2 separate regions of the Homo sapiens genome follow, and region 2 is linked to region 1. The links come from fine-mapping of genetic effects on gene expression. A gene starts in region 1. The other region holds a variant in brackets. All regions are shown on one strand. Distances are from middle to middle.

Evidence for each region. PIP is the estimated chance that this variant, and not a neighbour inherited with it, causes the effect.
Region 2: its variant is the best candidate, but not a certain one, in a credible set for the expression of COP1 in whole blood (INTERVAL, PIP 0.85).

Annotation. Positions count from the first base shown.
Region 1 is chr1:176,203,230-176,211,569 of GRCh38, reverse strand. It overlaps COP1 (COP1 E3 ubiquitin ligase), which reads left to right and starts at 4,284. Exons shown (of 20, transcript NM_022457.7): 1 at 4,284-4,998. The coding sequence starts at 4,592. COP1-DT (COP1 divergent transcript) reads right to left here and starts at 3,905. Exons shown (of 5, transcript NR_185981.1): 1 at 3,699-3,905. RefSeq lists an enhancer at 3,677-3,746 and silencers at 4,247-4,456, 4,487-4,846.
Region 2 is chr1:175,951,057-175,959,396 of GRCh38, reverse strand. All of the region lies in intron 18 of COP1 (COP1 E3 ubiquitin ligase), which reads left to right. Among named protein-coding and RNA genes, the nearest start is that of MIR1843, 13 kb to the left of the region's middle. The variant T/G (reference allele first, on the strand shown) is at 4,011.

The sequences.
Region 1 (8,340 bases):
AAGATCTTGCCAGTAGAAATTAATAAGGACTGTGTACTTTCAGTCATTACAATTATGTATTCAGCCAGTACATTTATCTGGTACAAAAATGAAGCTCTATTGCATCACATACTCTCAGCTTCTTTTTGTGAATTTAGATTTTATAAAAAATACATTCCAAAGAGGTAATACTAAGAACTGATGATTTTTTTTTCTTTCCCCCTAGGAGACTTCTCAGTTGGGGTCATACTACTTTCTGTCTCAGCCCATTTTCTGCTGCTATAACAGAATACAACAGACTGGGTAATTTATAAAGAAAATAAATTTATTTCTCACAGTTGTGGAGCCTGGGAAGTCCAAGAGCACGGTGCCTGCATATGGGGAGGGTCACCTCATGGTGAAAGGCCCAAGACAGCATGAGAGACAGAGAGGCAAGATGGGAGCCAAACTTATCCAGTTATTAGGAACCCACTCCTGCAATAACTAACAGTACTCCTCATGACCTAATCATGAGACCTCTTGAAGGTCTCAACTCTCAACACTGTTACAATGGCAATTACATTTCAACCTGAGTTTTGGTGGGTACATTCAAATCACAGCAGTCCTCAGCATAAGCAACTTGGAAGGAAACTCTCACTCTGTCGCCCAGGCTGGAGTGCAATGGCACGATCTCGACTCACTGCAACCTCCACCTCCTGGGTTCAAGCCATTCTCCTGTCTCAGCCTCCCAAGTAGCTGGGATTGCAGGCATGCGCCACCATGCCTGGCTAATTTTTTACATTTTTAGTAGAGATGGGGTTTTACCATGTTGGCCAGGTTGTTCTCAAACTCCTGACCTTGAGTGATCCACCCACCTCAGCCTCCCAAAGGGCTGGGATTACAGGCGTGAGCCATTGCACCTGGCCTGGAAGGAAACTCTTTCACATTCTCTACATTATCAATCACAGGACAGTGTTGTGTTTTTTGTTTTTTTTTTTTTTTGAGACGGAGTTTCACTCTGTTGCCCAGGCTGGAGTGCAGAGGTGCGATCTCAGCTCACTGCAGCCTCTGCCTCCTGGGTTTCTTGGGTTCAAGCAATTCTCCTACCTCAGCCTTCCAAGTAGCTGGGACTACAGGAGCATGCCACCACTCCCAGCTAATTTTTGTATTTTTTTAGTAGAGTCGGGGTTTCACCATGCCAGCCAGGCTGGTCTCAAACTCCTGACCTCGAGTGACCCACCTACCTCAACCTCTCAAAGTACTGGGATTACAGGCATGAGCCACCGCACCCGGCCAATCACAGTGTTTTCAAAGTGTTAGTCACTTGCCTCAGATTCACCTGGGTGCTGGTACAAATGCATATTCATAAGGTGGAGCTCAGAAATCTGGTTTTTAACAAGCTCTCTAGGTGATTCTTCTGGGCACCGATGTTTGAGAATCATGGGGGAAGCAATATGTTTAGCAAATAATAGGTCCATAATAACTATTTGATGATGATATACTATGCCCTTAGTAACTTCCAAATGTCTCTCATGTGCTGAACTTTCTTCTGTGCCTTAACCCTGTGTTTTCGACCACTGCCTATTCTTTGAGTTTTTTTCATCCCACACTCATTCAAAACATTCAAAACTAAACCATCTACTGGACACCTCCAATCTTGTCACTACGTTATTGTTACCCAGAAGTCATGTTTGGAGTCATTTCTGTTTGTGTTTCATCATTTTTACTTAATCAACATATTGACCATTGTGTCAAGCACTGATATAGACAGTGATGAATATGACAGATATGGGTCATACTCTCAAGGATGGTAAAGACAGTTTTACAGAGAGTAATTAAACTTTATACCATCAGTTCCTTAGTGTTTTTCTCAGAATATTCCCTTTCTTTGTCACCATCCTAATCTAGAATCTTATCATTTACGCTCGAACTGCTTTAATTTTTCCTAGTCTTTGTTCCTAATTTCCCACCTCTTCTGAAAGATTAATCTCCTAAAAAATTAATCTTTAAAACATTATAAATGTTTTTACCCTACTTAATGCCTAATTTCCGTGAAAGCTGTCGTAATCAAAATGGAATTATATGGGCTCGGTGGTACACACCTACAGTTCCAGCTACTTGGGAGGCTGAGGCAGCAGGATTGCTTGAGCCCAGGAATTTGGGGGCTGTACTGTGCTATAGACTTGCCTGTGAACAGTCACTGCATCCCAGCCCCATCTCTTAAACAAAAGGGGGTGGGGGGCCCCATCTCTTAAACAAAAGGGGGTGGGGGGCCCCATCTCTTAAACAAAAGGGGGTGGGGGGGCCCCATCTCTTAAACAAAAGGGGGTGGGGGGCCCCATCTCTTAAACAAAAGGGGGTGGGGGGCCCCATCTCTTAAACAAAAGGGGGTGGGAGGTAGTCACTAATATATTTTTTAAAACACTGAAAAATAGATTCAGAGGTCATGAAGAGAAGGGGTCTCATGCTTGCACACCTGATGACAAAAACTATCACAAAAACCTGCAAAAGCCACAATCTTTTTTTTTTTTTTGAGATGGAGTCTTGCTCTGTTGCCCAGGCTGGAGCACAGTGGCACGACCTTGGCTCACTCCAACCTCCGCTTTCTGGGTTCAAGCGATTCTCCTGCCTCACACTCTCGAGTAGTTGGGATTACAGGTGCATGCCACCACACCCGGTTAATTTTTGTATTTTTAGTAGGGACAGGGTTTCGTCATGTTGGCCAGGCTGGTCTCGAACTCCTGACCTCAGGTGATCCACTCGCCTTGGCCTCCCAAAGTGTTGGAATTATGGGCCTCAGCCACCGCACCTGGCCAAAAGCCACAATCTTACACAAAAAATACTTCCGCAAAAACATCTGCCCAGCAACTTCCTGTCCAGTTTCCGACTGGTGTCACCTTGTTATTGATCTTCGTAGCCAAGGATAACGGTTTAAAAACAATTATGTAATTCTCATTTTTTTTTAAATTTTAAAAACCTTTGCCTTCCTTTACCTCCTTGAATACGCACGTAGTTTACTAAGTCATGAGTATTTTCACACTTTATTCCCAAATAAATATATAAGAATCATAGAATGATAGAATTGAAAAGGATAAAATCACACAGTTGTTTCTAACTCCCACCCCTTAGAATGCGGCAAATGAAAAAAATTTTTTTTTTTGAGACAGGGTCTCTGTCTCACAGGCTGGAGTGTAGGGATCTCCGCTCCCTACAGCCTCAACCTCCCCAGCTCAAGCAATCCTCCCATGTCAGCCTCCCGAGTAGCTGGGACTACAGGCCTGCTGCCACCATGCCCAGCTAATTTTTTGTACTTTTTGTAGAGACGGGGTTTCGCTATCTTGCCCAGGCTGGTCTCTAACCTCAGGTTCAGCCTGATCCTCACCTCCAGGCTCAGGTGATCCGACCCCCTAGGCCTCCCAAGGTGCTGCGATGACAGGCATGAGCCACCGCGCCCGCCTATAATCAATTTTCAATATTCTAAAAAAGCCTACCAGAAATTGTATATTTTCTGGTGGTATTAAATGCTAGGTTTCCTTGTTTTGTGCTAGAATTATATCAGATCCACAATAAACCTAGGTTCCGACTGAGCTGGGTCTGATTGAGCAAAATCTGTTTTCCCATTATTGTTATGTTCAATTTGGCAAACAGCTTTTCAAAATATAGGAGTGAAGTCGTGGTCGAACTAATAAAATTGGTAACACTTGCTACAATGTTTGCAATTCGCAGAAAACTTCACTGACTTCATCTTAACTTATTCCTCACAAAGCTGTGGAATCACCATCAGTAGAGCAGGAGTCGTTGGCTCAATGCAGTGCTGTCTGCAACCGCTCGGAGCTTCTAGGTTCTTTCCGTGGGTCTCCAGCTTATGAGCACCTACATTCCGCGATTCGGAAGCACCTGCCTACCCCTCAGAAGAGAGAGACAGCTCCTTCTTCCCGTTCCGGAATGTGGTGCGTTCGCACGCATGCGTGACACGGCTACTCCGCGCTTGCGCCGATATTCTCCGCTTGGGGCGGATACCCTGGGTGACCCGTGAGCGTCCGCGCCCGGCGCGCGCCTGCGCAGTCGCTTTTCGAGAGTTTCCGCCCGCTACGTTCCCGTCTTTCAAACCACCCCACCACCTATACCATTCATTCCAGTCTCCTCAATTCTTTCACTGTATTAAGACGGCCTGCCCTCTGGCACGTTTTCTGGAACGAAAGCGGCTTGGGACAGACAGACTCCCTTCGCCAGGGAGCCCCGACCCCGAGGGCGCGCCCTGAGCGTCTGAGCGCAGCCCCGCTGCGTCCCCAGTTGTATCCCCCGCCACGCCCGCCTCTTCCGCCGCTCGCGCGCGCGCGCACGGCCGGCCACGGCGCGCCGGGGTTGGCTGCTACAGGGACCGCGGTGGCGGCGGCGGCCTCGACAGCGGTAGTGCCTTCTACTCCGCTTTTTTAGTTTCCTCCGCCCCCTCCCGTGGGACGCTGTTGTGTGGCTGCCTTAAAAAAAAACGCAACTTTATTGTTCCTCAGCCCCACCTCCGGCTCGGCGGGCGTCCTCAGGATGCACTGAGGCTGAGGGGAGGGGAGGCGGCGGAGGGTCGAGGTCGCGGTCCCTCTCCTCCGAGCGCCCGGCTGGAGGGGAGGGAGTCACGATGTCTGGTAGCCGCCAGGCCGGGTCGGGCTCCGCTGGGACAAGCCCCGGGTCCTCGGCGGCCTCCTCGGTGACTTCCGCCTCCTCGTCTTTATCCTCTTCCCCGTCGCCGCCTTCCGTGGCGGTTTCGGCGGCAGCGCTGGTGTCCGGCGGGGTGGCCCAGGCCGCCGGCTCGGGCGGCCTCGGGGGCCCGGTGCGGCCTGTGTTGGTGGCGCCCGCCGTATCGGGTAGCGGCGGCGGGGCGGTGTCCACGGGCCTGTCCCGGCACAGCTGCGCGGCCAGGCCCAGCGCCGGCGTAGGAGGCAGCAGCTCCAGCCTAGGCAGCGGCAGCAGGAAGCGACCTCTCCTCGCCCCCCTCTGCAACGGGCTCATCAACTCCTACGAGGACAAAAGCAACGACTTCGTATGGTGGGTTTGAAGAGCACTCCCTCCTTGTCCCTAAATTATGAGTTTCTGCCGCTTAGGCTTGGGGGCGGGGGGTCTGGTGTGGGGGTGGCTTGTTGGAGAGCTTGGGATACTGGTGCTGTGGTGGTGTCTGCAGAGGGAATCGAGCGTTTGCAGGCATTCGAGCTCCTGGTTGGTGGGGTGAAGGAATGTTGGAGTAGCGAGGCAGGGTGGGGATAATAAAGAGGTAGGTAAGTGTTGCTGAGGAGGAAGTGAAGGGAGTTTAACGAATGACGAGGGAAGAGGTGGAAGGTCAAATAAATGGTTTTGGATAACAAAGTTGGCAGAGAGGTTGAGTCTTAAAATTTTTGCCTCTCTGATGAATTGAACACTCAGTCAATCAGGAGTCCTTGTTGAGATGAATGAAATTTGCAAATGGAGAGGACTAAGCTTCCTCGGATGCAGAGGGGTGGAGTTGGTCAAAATTTATTTGAAGTATGGTAGATGATGCTGTAAACATAAGCATGGATGTCTTATAAAGACATGCTTTTTATAATAATGTAAGTACCTATCGTATGTATGTGTAAATATCTTCTTCCATTTCAAAGGATGGGCCACTTAGGAATCGGCTGTTGAGACGACTGTAGTCAAAGTCTGTTAACAGATTTTTCACTTCTCCACCAAGTGTCTTGAAAAGAGAGAACCACGTTTGTTAAATAACATCCCTGTGTCAGATGTAACTGTACTATACTGGATAACAGAGTATACTGGAACTTCTGACTTGAGAAATGCTAGGTATAGACATTTTGTCGTCATAGTTGGCATCTTGAATGATACAGAGTAACATTTAGTCATGACATTTGGGATAGAGAGGTTAGTCATATGAAGTGAAAGGTGGTGTTGATTGTCTTGCTTGAGAGTGTTTTGGAATTTTTATTGGATTTTAGATATTGGTAGGATTATGAGAAGTAATTGCTGTTAGCTAGCTGCTTAAGAAGTGGTAGTGTTTCGTACTTTCCTTTTTGAGGAAATTGTTGATCAAATATTAGGCATGTAGGAAGTTGGCTGCTTGCACAGTCATTATGAGGGAAGTTGATTCAGATCAGGGTTGAAGATGGTCTGAGTTGGTGTTATTAAATAAGATAGAGCTAGAAGTTGGAACTGTTAGGAAAGTTATTGATTAGACTTACGGTTTCTAGTTCCTGCAGAAAAATGATGTCTTTATTCACCTTTCTGCTTTTTTGTACGTTATTCTTTATCAGAATTAATCTGTTTTTCATTGAACATTTGGGCTGTAATATGATTGTTATTTATAAATAAGCAGTTTATGGTTGGGGCTGAGAAGTGTTTGCACTTCTACACAGTCGATAGTGCGAGTAGCTAATAAGCTAATAAAACAAAGTGGGGTGTGCATAATTTAGTTGTCTTTTTAGCCACTGTTTGCATTTTAATTTTTAGTATACTTAACGAACACAAACATGTTAGCCTCCGTGTAAGTACACTAAAATAAAGTAAAAGATGTGAGGAATAAGGAATCGATCATTGTCATTCAAGAGATACTTGTATGACATTCACTGTCGGCCAGGCACCATATGAAGTTCAGTGCACTGCAGGCTATGCTATAGGGAATTGGGAACTCTTTTTTTAAAAGAGTAAAAATTTGTATTTGAGACGGAGTCTTGCTCTGTCACTCAGGCTGGAGTGCAGTGGCACCGTCTTGGCTCACTGCCACCCCCGCCTCCCGGGTTCAAGCAATTCTCCAGCCTCAGCCTCCCGAGTAGTAGCTGGGATTACAGGCACCTGCCACCACACCTGCCTAATTTTTTGTATTTTTAATGGAGACGGGGTTTCACCATGTTGGCCAGGCAGGTCTTGAACTCCTGACCTCAGGTGATCTGCTCGCCTCGGCCTCCCAAGGTGCTGGGAGGGATTACAGGTGTGAGCCACCGTGGTCCTGAGTATTTCACTTTCTAAGAATCTCATTAGTTAATTATTTCTTTTTCTGGTGAGGTTTAATATTCAGAAGAATTAATTAATGAGAATCTGATTTAAAACTCAAGCCAGGTTTGATTTTGTCCAGACTCTTGGGGTAGGATGATATGGATTAGGCAAGGCCCAAGGAATCCTTTTTTTCTTTTTTTTTCCCCCCGTTTGGCTGTGGGTCTTGTCTTGTATGCCCCAAGGTCAAACTGTGAACCAATTCAAATTATTCTATGCTTTTATATTTAAACGAAGCCCAAGTTCAAATAATGATAATTTCTTATTCATTTATGGGACATTTTAAAGATATGCTTATGCTTCACGTTTTATTTTATCCTTAGAACAATTCTGTGATGTTATATATAACTTATTTTTAATACAATACTAATTATTTTCTCATTGAGGCACAGAGAAGTAATTTTGTTTGTCGTTGGACAGGTAAGGACAAAATGAGAACTCAGATTTCCCAGTTCTCAACTTTGTGTTTTCTTTGTGTGCAATTAGAGAGTTTCAGATCTGTAAGTTCGAGTACATGTATTTAGCCCAGTGGTTCTTAAACGGCACAGATTGGAGGAGAAGCAGCTGTTTCATAATCATATGAGATAAATGTTTTATCCCTCACCACTCCCTTTTCTTACCTGCCCACATCCCAAGAAGACGTACCTGAATTGGAGGCTGGGGTGGGTGGTGTAATTTGCATATGCTCCCCTGGTGATAGGGACCTGTCCTTCTCCCCTCCTTGAGAACTGTTGATTTAAATAGTCACGTACCTAATTTCAGTAATAAACATTGGCCTCTCCTGACTTATATTTGAAAGTAAGTTTATATTTAATTGAAGAATTCATAAACATTTTAGGGGTTTAGGTTGCATTTTTATATTTTATTTTACACAAAAGATTGAAGGTATTATCAAGTTGAATAATTTTAACAGTGTTTTATTGATGGAGAATCTAATACAGGACAGTAGTATTTAGCTTGACATTGGATACATTTTCAACATTCAGAGGAAGTCTTTGTTATTTTGTTTTTTGCAAAATTTTCTTACGGTTCATTTAACTAGACTGTGAGTCTGGTCTGTATTTGAAAGATGACTTCTGTTTTTTATACGGACTCCTTTTTTAAACAATTCTATAACTACTGCCTTTGTATTAGCTTTTCCAGCTATCTCAAATGAAGTTTTCTACCTCTGCAAGTCCCAGCCATTCTTGCAGCAGAAGTATACGTTTGCATGTAGATAGTAAGCTCTTTATGAGAAGGTTGACTTTTTTTCTTTTTTTTTGAGACGGAGTCTCGCTCTGCTGCCCAGGCTGGAGTGCAGTGGTGCGATCTCGGCTCACTGCAAGCTCCGCCTCCCGGGTTCACGCCATTCTCCTGCCTCAGCCTCCC
Region 2 (8,340 bases), 250 kb after region 1:
TGACTTGTTCCTCACCAAAGGGAAAGCTTTTAAAGATGTTATCATTAAGTATGTCTGCTGTAAGAGTTTTGTAGATACATACCCTTACAAAGAAGTTTCCTTCAGTTCTCAATGTGCTGAGAGTTCTTACCATAAATGAATGCTAAAGTATATTACTGCTTTTTTGTACCTATTTAACATGATATAATATTTTTCTTTCAAATATTGATCTAGTAGGTGAAATTTTTTTTTAACCTAATATTAAACCAACTTTACATTCGCTGGAATAAGCCCAACTTGGTCAAGATTTATTCTCCTTATATATTGTTAAAATCAACTTGCTACTATTTTGTTTAGGATTTTTTCATTTGTCTTTATGAATAACATTGGCCTATAATCTTTTCCTTTTTTGCATTGTCCATGTCAGGTTTTGATTTCATGGGTATATTAACTTCATAAAGCAAATTAAGGAGTTCTTTCCTCCTTTGATGTGGAAAAATTTGTGTAATACGAAATTATTTCTTTCTTGAATATTGGCTGAACTCGTAGATGAAGTCATGTAAGCCTGAGGTAGAAATATTTTTGACTGTCGATTTATGAATTTAATACCTGTAGGATGATTCTTGCTTTCTATTTCTTCTTGATTAGTTGGGTAAGTTTTTATAGGAATTTTTCCACTTGGCTTAAATATTAAAATTTATTAACATAAAGTCTTTTCAGTTTCTTTTTTCTATAACATTATTTATTCTCATTCTGAGGGAAGTCATCAATTTAACGTAATGCTTAACATTTGGAGAAATAAATTTTAAAGAAGGGTTATATTCTGATTTTGTTTAATAGTTATCTTCTGGTTAATAAAAGGAGGAGAAATGTAGGGTGGAAATGCTTATCATAGTAAATAGCAAGGTTTATATATAAAACCATCTATATTGAACAGGGAGAGAGGAATGACAAAAATATTTACCTTTCTTTTTGATAATTCAGTGCCTTATTTTGGGGGAAATATTTAGCTTCATAGCTGAAATGGCTTTGATATTATACCTGAATGGTTACAGAGATCTCATAAATATAGTAGTGATAAGGGGTTTATATATTATGTTGGGAAATCAGAAAATATTTAAATCATGAATAATGACTTTTAATTGTTAAAGACCAATATTGAGTTTAAAGTTAACTTATAAAATACGTATTTGTTCTTGTGTGTTTGTTCCCAGCTTTTTAAAATTGATATTATTGAAATATAATTTACATAAATATAAACTACATACATTTTAAGAGTATTCAGTGAATTTTTACAAGTGTATACATCAGTATAACTACTACCTTAATTCAGTTATAACAACATTTTCATCACCCAAAAAGTTACCTTGTGTCACTTTGTAATCAGTCCCCTCCCTTCTCCACTACAAGCTACTGCTAATCCACTTTATGTTATCATAAGTTAAGTTTTGCTTATTCTAGGATTTCATATAACAGGAATGATACAGTATGTAATTTTTTGCACCTGGCTCCTTTTATTTAGCATGATACTTTGAAATGCTTGTGTTATTGCCTGTATCTGTAGTTCCTTCTTATTAGTAATCCATTTTATAACTATGCAACAAATTTTGTATCTATTCACCAATCTTTAATATTGCCCTTGTTTCCAGTTTTGAACTATTTTTAATAAAGCCGCTGTAAACATTCATAAATAAGTGTTTATGTGACTATATACCATCATTTCTTTTGGATAAATACCTAGGAGTGGCATTATGAGATTGTAGAGTAGTTGTAAGTTTAGCCTTATAAGAAACTGTCAAACCTTTTTCCATAGTTGTTGTATTACATTCATTGGTCACTTAACAATGGGGATACGTTTTGAGAAATGCCATTAGGTGATTTGATTTCATCATTGCACAAACATCATAGAGTGTACTTCCCAAACCTGGATGGTATAGCCTAGTACATACCTTAGCTATGTGGTATAGCCTGTTGCTCCTAGGCTACAAATTTGTACAGCATGTTACTACACTGAATAGTGTAGGCAGTTGTAACACAATGGGATTTGTGTATCTAAACACAGAAAAGCTATAGTAAAAATACAATATAAAAGGTAAAAAATGGTACACCTGCCTAGGGCATTACCATGAATGGAGCTTGGTGGAGTAGAAGCTGCTCTCGGTGAGTCAGGGAGTGAGTGGTGAGTGAACGTGAAGACCCAGACATTATTGTACATTACTGTAGACTTTATCAACACTGTATACCTAAGCTACACTAATTTATTTTAAAATGTTTTCTTTCTTCAATAATAAATTAACTATAGTTTACTGTAACTTTTTACTTTATAATTTTAATTTTTTTCACTTTTTGACTCTTTTGTAATAACTTTTAGCTTAAAACACAAACACATTGTACAGCTGTACAGATTTTTCCTTATTCTGTAAGCTTTCTTCCATTTTTAAATGTATTTATTTATTTTTACTTTTTAAACATTTTTTGTTAAGCTCATCAACATCACTGTCTTCTACATCTTGTCCCATCGGAATGTCTTCAGGGACAATAACACACATAGAGCTGTCATCTCCTATGGTAACAATGCTTTCTTCTGGAGTATCTCCTGAAGGACCTGCCTGAGCCTATTTTACAGTAACTTTTTTTGTTAATAAGTAGAAGGAGTATAATCTAAATTAATGATTAAGAAGTATAGTACAATAATCTTATTGGACCACCATCATATATGTGACCCATCGTTGACCAAAATGTCATTGTGCAGTGCATGACTATATTTTGCACTCCTGCCAGCATCCTAAAATCATTCCATTTGTTACATATTTTTGCCAACACTTGATATTGTCACTTTAAGAAAAAGATTTAGTTGTTCTAGTAAGTGTGGATGGTATTTTAAAATTTTTGATGAAGTCCAATTTATCAGGGTTTTTTTTTTCCTTTATTGTACATGTTTTTTGCATCCTAAAAAATAGTTGCCAACCCAAAGATTTTCTCTGATTTTTTTTCTTGAAGTTTTATTGTTTCAGCTTTTACATGTATGTCTTAGATCTATTTAGAATTAATTTTGGGAATGGTATGATAGAAGGATTGAAGTTTACTTTTTTCTGTATATACAGTTGTTTTAGCACACATATGGTTGTTTCACATACCTGCAGTTGTTTCAACAGCATTTGTAAAAATTACTCTATTTTTTTTTTAACTTGCCAAGTTGTTTTGAAATTCAGTTGATTATGGATGGATCTGTTTCTGGAATTTCTTTTCTGTGCCTTTGATTTATATGTCTATCCTAATAATACTACACTGTATTGATTCCTAATGCTTTTATTAACAGTAGAACTTCAAATCATGTTGTGTAAGTCCCTAGTTTTATTTTTTCTTTTTCAAAATTATTTTAACTATTATAATGTCTTTGCTTTTTCATTTAAATTTTTGAATCACTTTGCCAGTTTCTACTAGAAAAGTTTGTATGATTTTAATTGGAATTGCATTGAGCCTATAGATAATGTAAGAAGAATTGGCATTGTGACACTATTGAGTCTCTGGTCTATGAACATGGTATAACTGTCAATTTATTTAGGTATTCTTTAACATCTCTAAGCATTGTTTGGTAATTTTTAGTATGTAGGCCGTGTGTGTGTGTGTGTGTGTGTGTGTGTGTGTGTGGTTTGTCTCTAAATGATTCATGCTTTTTATGGTACTATAAATGGTATTTTTTAAATTCTATTTGCTTATCATTTATTGTTAGTTTATGGAAGTGAACTGATTTTGGTATAATTGACTTTGTGTCTGACAATCTTGCTGAAGACAATTTATTTATTCTAGTGGCTTATTTTTAAGGTACATTAGGATTTTCCACATAGGCCATCATCTCTTTTGCAAATGAAGACAGTTTTCTTTTTTCAGATCCATATGCTTTTTCCTTTTCTTGACTGTCGCACTGGGTTGTACCTCTAATACAGTGTTGAATACAAATGGTGAGAGAAAGCATGTTCACCTTGTTCCTAGTCTGAGAGAGAAAGGGTTCAGTATTTCACCACTAAGTA[T/G]GATGTTAGTTGTAAGTTTTTCATAGGTATTCCTTATCACCTTGAAGAAGTTCCTTTCTATTCTTAGTTTGCTGAAGGGATGATGAATGCTCTCAAGTGCATTTTCTGTGTTGTGATTACATTACTTTTTCTTTTTTTTGTTTTGAGGCAGGGTCTCACTCCTGTCACCCAGGCGAGAGTACAGTGACACAATCACAGCTCACTACAGCCTTCCCAGGCTCAGGTGATTCTCCCACCTCAACCTTCTGGGTAGCTGGGACTACAGGTGCATGCCACCACACCCATCTAATTTTTTGTGTTTTTGATAGAGAGGGTTTCGCCATATTGCCCAGGCTGGTCTCACACTCCTGGACTCAAGCAATCCACCTGCCTTAGCTTCCCAGAGTGCTATCACAGGCATGAGCCACCCTACCTGGCCTTTTCTATTCTCTTTACATAGTGAATTATATATATATATTTTTTAATGTTGAAAACCAATTTTAATATCTGGATGAATTCCATTTAGACATGATGCATTATTCTTTTTGTATATGACTGAATTATCTTTACTTGTATTTTGTTAAGGTTTTTTACATCTGTTTATAAAAGTAGTTGGTAATTTTATTTGTTTTTGTAATGTCTTTCTCTGGTTTTGTTTGATTTACAAGCTGAGTTTGGAAATGTTCCTTAGTCTTCATTTTTAACAACTTTTTCTTTCTTCTGTCATAATTGGGAATTTGTATCTTTCATAGAATTTGTTCATTTCATTACCTGTCAGTTTTATTGACATACAATTGTTCATGTTTATTTTCTAATTATTCTTTTAATATCTATAGAATATCTAGTGATATCCCATAATTTATTACTGATATTGTTAACTTACATTTTCTTTTTGTTAAGGCGTATCAATTTTATTGATTTTTTTCAATGAATTAACTTTTCATTTCAATACTTTTTTACCTTTTTCTGGTTTTATTTTGATTTCTGCTCTTCATGACTGTCATTCTTGTACTTACGTCATGTGTAACTTGCTCTTTTCCTAGCTTCTTAAGGTGCAAGTTACTATATCATTAATGTTCAACCTTCCTGCTTTACTAATAAGTATTGGAAGCTATAACTTTCTAGGCATTGTTTTAGGTGCATTACACAAATTTTGATATGTTGCATTTTTATTATCTTTTAGTTCAAAATGGTTTCTCATTTCCATCCCTGGGTTATTTGGGAGTATATTTTTAAATTTGCAAATACTTGTGGATTTTTCCAGATTTCTTTTTGTTATTCTTTTCTACTTTAGTTCTGTTTCTTCAGAGAACATACTTGTATGATTTTAGCCCTTTAAATTTACTGTGATTTGTTTTATGGTCTGACACATCTTTGTTGGGGACTAGTACGCATGCATTTGAAAAGAATGTGTATTCTGTCATTTAAATAAAACTTTCTGTAAATGTCAGTTAGTTCAGTTTGGTTTTTATGCTATTGTTTAAGTCTTTTATATGGTTATTGATTTTCTCTCTACTTAGTCTTTGAATTATTGAAAGGTGACTGTTAAAAGTTCCAAACATGAGTCAATTTATTCTATTTAGTTTTGTCAGTTTTGGCTTTGTTTTAGATATATATGTATATAGGAGTTTTTTTTTTTTTTTATAAGTTGACCCTTATTTAATTATGAAATACCTGTCTTTATCGCTGGTCAAATTTCTTGTCCTGAAGTCTACTTTTTCTGATATAGCCATTCCAGCTTTCTTACGATTAATGTTTGCGTGGTGTATCTTATCTGTATTTTTATGTTTAAAGTGTTTCCTTTTTTTATTTTTTTAAGACAGGGTCTCACTTTGTTGCTCAAGCTGATCTCAAACCCCTAGTCTCAAGCAATCCTCCCACCTCAGCCTCCCAAAGTGCTGGAATTACAGGCATGAGCCACCGCGCCCAGCCTAAAGTGTATTTCTTAGGGACAGCATAGAGTTGAATCTTGCTGTTTTATCCAGTCTTATAATCTCTGCCTTTTAATTATAATATTTAGACCCCTTATACTTAATTATCAATACAGTTGGTTTTATGTCTGTCATATTTTTTGTCTTCTCTAAGTTCCTATGTTCCTCATTTCCTTTCTTTTTTTTGAGTATTTTTATAATATTTTTTCTCCTTTACTAGCTTATTAGGTATATACTGTTTCTTGTATTTTTTAATGGTTTCTCTAAAGTTTATAATATGTTTAACTTTTTACAGTCTGTCTTCAGATTATATGATACCACTTTATAATGGAAGAATCTTATAACATTATACTTCTATTCTCCCCTTTTATTATTTGTGCTTTTGTTGTCATGTATATTTACTTGTGTTTGTGTTATAATCACCTTAAAGCACTGTTATTATTTTTCCTTAAAATAGGAAATTATCTTTTAAAAAAACTTAAAAACAAGAAATCAAATATCTTTTATATTTATCTACCTAGTCACCATTTCTCACAATATTCATCCCTTATTTATTTATTGAGACAGAGTCTTGCTTTGTTTCCCAAGCTGGAGTGCAGTGGTGCAACCATAGCTCACTGCAGCCTCAAACTCCTAGGCTCAAGAGATCCTCCCGCTTCAGCCTCCGGAGTAGCTGGGACTAGAGGCATGCATGCATCACCATGCCTGGTTAATGTTTTTTTTTATTTTTAGTAGCAACAAGGTATTACTCTGTTGCCCAGACTGGTCTCAAACTCCTGAGCTCAGATGATCCTTCTACCTCAGCCTCCCAAAGTGCTGGCATTGCAGGTGTGAGCTACCATGCCCACCTTATCCCTTTTTTAGATCAGAGTTTTCATGTAGTATAATATTCCTTCATCCTGAAGAACTTCCTTTAACAATTTCTTACAGCGCAGGTCTGTTTGTGAAAAATTATCTCAGCTTTATTTTATCTGAAAATATCTTTATTTTGACTTTAATTTTGTGTATCTCAATGGATGGCTTTCTTGTTTATCATCTTTTTTTTTTTTTTTTTGAGATGAAGTCTTGCTCTTGTCGCCCAGGATGGAGTGCAATGGTGCCATCTTGGCTCACTGCAACCTCTGCCTCGCAGGTTCAAGCGATTCTCCCACCTCAGCCTCCCGAGTAGCTGGGATTACAGGCTCCTGCCACCACGCCCAGCTAATTTTTGTATTTTTAGTAGAGATGGGGTTTCACCATGTTGGCCAGGCTGCTCTCAAACTCCTGACCTCAGGCGATCCGCCTGCCATGGCCTCCCAAAGTGCTGGGATTACAGGCGTGAGCCACTGCGCCTGGCCTCTTGTTTGTCATCTTAAAGATGCTGTCCTATTGTCTTCTGGCTTGCATTCTTGCTGATGGGAAATTGGCGATCTTTCTCTTTATGTAATGTGTCTTTGTTTCTTTGGCATTTCTACAGATTTTCTCTGTTTCTTGTCTTCAGCAGTGTAACTGTGGTGTGCCTTGATGTGGTGTTGTGCTTCTTTCTGCCAGAAATTGTTAAGCTTCTTAGATTTGTGGGTTTATAGTTTACAAATTTGAAACATTTTAGTCTTAACGTTTTCATATATTTTTTTCTCTTCCTTCTTTGGGACTCCAATTATACATTTATTAGGTTGCATATTGCCCAATAGGTCACTGAGATGCTAATCTCTTTTTCCTCTCATGCTTTTTTCCTGTCTGCTTCAGTTGTAATTTTGGAGGTGTTACCAAATTTTTTGATGTTTTATTCCTCACTTGTCTCATCTGTTGTTATGTCCATCTCCTTACCTGCTTTGTGGTCCAGAAATTGCCTCTCAGTAGAAAACCAGGGTGATTATAGGACTCACTTCATTTGTTTCTTTTCTCTCAAAGATCACAGTCCTGTACTGCCTGTGGTCCAGTGGTATCTTACATATTTTTTTCAGTTTTCCAGTTGTATATGGTAGGAAAACAAATTTAGTCTGTTTACTCTGTTATGGCCAAAAATGGAAGTTTTTATATATATATATATATATATATATTCACGTATCTTATATTTAAATACATTGTATATACTTATACCTATACTAAAATTAATTTACATTTAAAATCAGTTACATCTATCTCTATGAATAAATCCACCAGTTGCTGAGTGAATAACTGTTCATTTCTCAACTTGTCAGGATTTTATTTTATTATATTTTATATATTTATTTATTTATTTATTTTTGAGATGGAGTTTTGCTCTTGTTGGCCAGGCTGTAGTGCAGTGGCATGATCTTGGCTCACCATAGCCTCCACCTCCCGGGTTCAGGCGATTCTCCTGTCTCAGCCTCCCAAGTAGCTGGGATTACAGGCATGTGCCACCACGCCTGGCTAATTTTTTTTGTATTTTTAGTAGAGATGGGGTTTCTCCATGTTGG